Regions from separate parts of the Homo sapiens genome. Here region 2 is linked to region 1. A link means that fine-mapping ties the variant in region 1 to the expression of a gene that starts in the linked region. Tissue or cell type: blood mononuclear cells. Region 1 holds a variant in brackets; the other region holds the start of a gene. All regions are shown on one strand. Distances are between the middles of the regions.

Evidence for each region. PIP is the estimated chance that this variant, and not a neighbour inherited with it, causes the effect.
Region 2: it holds the start of TNR, and the variant in region 1 is fine-mapped to the expression of TNR in blood mononuclear cells (TOPMed, PIP above 0.99).

Annotation. Positions count from the first base shown.
Region 1 is chr1:175,625,729-175,628,415 of GRCh38, reverse strand. All of the region lies in intron 1 of TNR (tenascin R), which reads left to right. Among named protein-coding and RNA genes, the nearest start is that of TNR, 120 kb to the left of the region's middle. The variant C/T (reference allele first, on the strand shown) is at 1,225.
Region 2 is chr1:175,742,073-175,744,759 of GRCh38, reverse strand. TNR (tenascin R) reads left to right here and starts at 1,165. Exons shown (of 23, transcript NM_003285.3): 1 at 1,165-1,534.

The sequences.
Region 1 (2,687 bases):
TTAGCATTAGGTATATCTCCTAAAAGGTGCCACTCTTTACCCCTTCCCCATAGGTCCCTTTAAGTGGCCTTCAAGCAAAGTACTATCTAAGCCACAGATTTCAGAGATCCTAAAAAGGCTCTAGGAACCTGTAGGAGAGGTTCCCTCCACACCAAATCACAGCTCTGGGACTTGATACCCTGGGGAGAAAGATAAACCCTGAAAACACATTTTCCTTGCTGCCTTATGGCAACATTTCTCAGAGTGTGGTCTGCAGACAATGGCATCAGAATCACCTGGAATGCTGGTAAAGAGCATATTTTTAGTTCCCTGCCCAGAATTACTAAATCAGAATCTCTGCCATGGCTTCCAAGGAAATAAGCTTTTTCACCTGCCTTCTGTGAGATTCTAAGGCACAGTTTGAGAGCCACTGGCTATAATTTGGAGGTGTTTCTCCCAGTGGTCCTGGCTCATTCTGACTATCGTGGATTGGGGCAGCTGAGACTGCTGGCTTCTTCGGCTTTTACAGACCTCTCATTACTCTCAGTGGCTATTATGGTAAAGGCCAAAGTCTTCTTAGAAATTTGCAGCTTCCTCCAAGACAGCTCTCTTGAGCTCTCTCCAATAGGAAAAGTTGTGTTTCCAAAGAACACATCTGATTGTGTAAAAACGTTAGGAGAGCCTCAGATTAACTTGAAAGTAGAACTGATCTTAGTCATTTTGGGGGTGGGGTGGGTAAGGATGGGGGATGGCAATTATGATGATCATTACAATTAGAGCTATAATTTATTGATGGCCTATCAAGTTCTAAGCCTGGTGCAAACTACTCGTAATTTCATTTAATCTTTACAATGTTCCGATATGATGAGTATCATTATGCCATTTTTACCAGATGAGAAATTTGTGGTTCAAAATCACATAACTAGTAACTGATATAATAATAGAATTTGAACTCCGTCTTTCTGAAGCTAGTAACTCCTTTTCAAGTATATGGAAATTTATAAAGCTAAAGCCCATCCCCATCCACTGTTCTGTTTTGATGTTTACACCAATGCTGTGAGGCAGACAGAACAAGTTTTATAAATGAGAACAAGTTTTATAAACTCTGATCTAAGGATCAGAGTTTTTCATCCCAGCTTGTGCACTGGTAAGAAACAGTCAAAGTTTGAACAACACAGGGCATTTACTCTCAATCCAGGGCTTTTTATTCCATGAGATTCTGCTTTGTCCTCTTGCCATGTCAAT[C/T]ACAAGTTATATGCCCAAGAGGCAGCAATACTGTTAGTTTAGATTAACAAGTGTATGAGTTTGGTGGGGTTGGCACAGCAAATTACTTTGTGGCTTAAAACAAGACAATTTTATGTTCTCAGAGTTCTGGAGGCCAGAAGTCCAAAATCAAGGTGATAACAGGATCTAGGTTCCTCTGAAGGATCTAGGGGAAAAATCTTTTCTTGCTCTTCCAGCTTCTGGGGGCTCCAGGCATTCCTTGGCTTGTGGTGACATCACTGCAATCTTAACTTCTGTCATGGCCTTCACCTCTGTGTTTTTCTTCTCTTCTGCCTTTTATCACTTGTCATTAGATTGAGGCTTCACCTGGATAATCCTGCATGATTTCATCTCAAGATCCTTAACTTAATTACATCTGCAAAGACCCTTTTCTAAACAAGGTCACATTCACAAGTTCTGAGGGTTAAAACATAGACATATCTTCTGGGGCCCAGCATTGAATCTACCACAATAGGTAACTAGTATTTTAAGACACAAATATAAATAAGACATATGTATAAATACACAAAGCTCATTAGAAAACATATACGGTTTATTTCAATTTCTCTCTCAGTTGCTTTCTTCTCAATTACTAACTGAAGGCTGCCATGAAGAATGGTTTTTGTTGAGAATTAGGGACAGGGAGGGATTGTTTTAGAGCAAAAGGGTATTGAGGTTAGGGCAACCCAAGAAGGTAGCTATGAAATGCAAGAGCCCACCCAGAAGGCAGAAGAGAGAGGATAGCAGCTCAGCACTGAGGGAGCAGCAGAAAGAGAGCTGGAGGTGGGTGATATGGTTCTGGAAGCAGCTACTTCACAGTCATGACCTGCTTGGGTGAGATTTTAATGACCTTTGCACGATCATAGTTATCAAAACCTACTTCTGGATTGGGGAATGGTAGAAGAGAGGGAAGACGAACAGGAATGTATTAGTGCATTTTCACACTGCTGATAAAGACATACCCGAGACCGGGCAATTTACAAAAGGAAGAGGTTTAATTGGACTTACAGTTCCACATGGCTGGAGAATGTCTCAGAATCATGGTGAAGGGTGAAAGGCACTTCTTACATGGCAGTGGCAAGAGAGAATGAGGAAGAAGCAAAAGTGGAAACCCCTGATAAGCCCATCAGACCTCGTGAAACTTATTCACTATCATGAGAATAGCACAGGAAAGACAGGCCCCCATGATTCAATTACCTCCCCCCCGGGTCCCTCCCACAACACTTGGGAATTCTGGGAGATACAATTCAAGTTGAGATTTGGGTGGGGTCAGAGCCAAGCCATATCCAGGAGCATCTTGTCCTTGTTTGGTTTGATATCATTTCAGCCTGTGGGGAGATGTGCAGATGGCTGGGGGTAGGAGGGGATGGGCTAGAAGGCTCAGAGACCCTTGCTGACCATGAAATCAGGCCCTCTGCAGAAAGTGGACCAGTCTCAGTCCCGTC
Region 2 (2,687 bases), 120 kb before region 1:
TAGCAATAATAGCCTCTGCATTATAGAGTTATTGTATGGCTTAAATGAGCTAATACATGTAAGGGCTTATAACAGTGCCTAGCACCTGGTATAAACACTCTATAAATGTTAGCTATTGTTATTTGCCAGGAGTGAATCAAATATAAGAAGAGTGTTTGTATAAGATTACCTTTAAATTCCCTGCCAATCCTGAGGTTCTATGTTTCTATATCATTCCAGTCCCTTAGCATTCCTATTCAGTAGGGAGGGGGCAGCATTATCCACATTTTACAAACAGTAAAATTGAGCCATAGAGAAGCAAAATGTCCAGTAAGCAAGTGGCAGTCTGAAACCAGGACTCAGATTTTTAGATGTAAGTATTAGGACTCTTTCCGGGAGGCTGTGTGGCTGTACATTTAAAAGAGAATGTTAGATATCCCTTATGAGCCTATGAGCAGTGACCCCTTGATGCCCCTTCTCTGCCAAGGTTCTCCATAAATGTGCATCAAGGTCACTTCTGTCTCTACTTCTGAGATGATCTCAGGCCATATCTTTTCAGATATTTTTCTTACTAGCTTTACAAAAAAGCTATATTGTGGAGTTGGATGAAGGGCCAGCTCCCTGTATCCTCTGCCTCTTTAGGCATTCCCATGCCTGGGTTGTGCTACGTATACACATACTTCACCTGGCTGCAGACGCTGACTTTTTGGAGGGTTCCTTCTGCTGAGCCCGGACCTCAAACCACTTGAGAACCCCACAACTGACCTTATTCCAAAACATTCTATCCCAACCCATTCCACCCTGGATTTCTCCTTCAATCATGGGCAAAGGATCTGCAAAAGCTTCCATCCTCTCCCTTTCTCTTCTTATCTGGGTTGGTCAGAGGGAAGCCTCTATCTTCTTCAGGACCCTGCCTATGCAGAGGCAGCTCCAAGAGTTGGGTGCGGGGAGTATTTCTGTGCCTGAATCTGGACTGTTCAAGAGGATTTAGGATGCTTTTCTTTTCTGTCCACTAGGGGGCTGCTTGTAGGGGGATGGAAAAAACGGAGGCTTAAAAAAATCATGCTGCTGAAATTTCAGCAAGAGGGGAAAAGAGAGAGCGCGTGAGAGAGAGAGAGAGAGAGAGAGAGAGAGAGAGAGAGAGAGAGAGACAGCAAAGCAGTCCCAGGCTTCCTCCTCTCTTTCACGTCAGAGGCAGGAACCGACTGTGCTAAGGCTGTTGGCTCAACACCCAGAGGAGACGGGCAGACCCAGGGAGAGTGAGAGAAGGGGGTCCTCTCTGACCCAAGGAATTACCACTAGTGGAGTGAAGCCACCTGACTTTTTGATCTTATTTTGGTTGCCTCCTCATTCTCCTTCCACCCGTAGCCCTGACAGCTTGGGTTTCATTTCTTTCGTGGAGCCTTGTCTCTTCCTCCCAGAATAGGAGGAAGGGAAGAGAAGGGAAAGAGGAGGGCTCTCTAGGTGAGCGCATCAGCTGGCTCCAGCCTGAGCAAGCAAGAATTTTCTTCCCAGGAAGCTCCTCTCGCTCCCCGGCCGCCCACCCCCAGCCTGGGTAAGTCCAGAGCACTCGCTCCTTTGATTTTCTGGCTAACGTGATTTCAGCACCAAGGAGAGCTATGAGATGCATTTTGGTTCCTGTGTATCTGTGTGTTCTGCAAGGCATTTGGCACTAGGGTTACATCTATTTCTCTGCTGCCAGTAGAGTCGGGTTCTGCGTAGGGAAAAGAAAGGCGCAAAACTATGTTTACCGAATTAAAGGGGGATTGGACTCTGGCCTTGCGGGTGTGTGTGTGTGTGTGTGTGTGTGTGTGTGTACTGTTGCATAAGACAGGTGAGGTCTGAGCTAAATTGCGGGTGGTTTCTGCGTGTCTCCATGTAAGGCTGTTCTTTTTGTCTGTAGATAAGCGAGATGGTTTGGGGAATTAGTCGTGCACCTTCTTTAACTCTCTCCCGACAAGCCATCCATGGTGGGAAAGAGTTGCAAAGGAAGCCTGGGGGGTTGGGAGTGGAGGTAGAGTTAAAAGTTACGCACCTCTGAGAGAGCTTTAAAGAGGTGCTTTGTAAAATGTCAGTTTCCTAGTATTCTCTGGGCTCTTGCTGTGGAGAGAGCCCAACCTGACCTTTTACTTTCTCTTCTGGTGTGAACCCATGGTAAGTGGGCAGGTGCAACAGGTGAAGCTCAGGCTGGGGCGGCTTTGGGGGGTTGAGGTCCCTTCTGACTTCATGGTGGTAGGAAAGTGCTAGTGTCTTGAGCTTTGCAGAGACTGGCTGGTGTGGGTTATATTACATTTGCAAGGAGGCAGGAGGTACCCTCCACTTTTATGCCATCTTTGGCTATGGGTGGTTGGAAAGAAGACAAAGTCTGTTCTGCCCTGTTTTCTGGGGCATTTGGCAGTGAAAAACAACTAAGAATAAAGGTTTGTCTCTATATGTCTAGGGTGAGCAGAAACAAAATTAGACTTGTCCCAGACTCAGGAGGGCTTGAAGTGGTACTCTGTTCTCCTCCAGCACTGAGAGGCTCTGCAAACAGGAGCTCATTATTACTTCTTTCTTCACTGCTGCTACTTTTTGCAAGGTATTACTCTGTCTCTCCTGCTTTCTGCCTCTCTGAAGTATGTTCAGTCAATTCCCTGCATCTGCTTTGGTATTGTCTTGGAGACACTATAGGCCTGCCCCTGCCCCATTCAGTCCTGGCCACACCTACC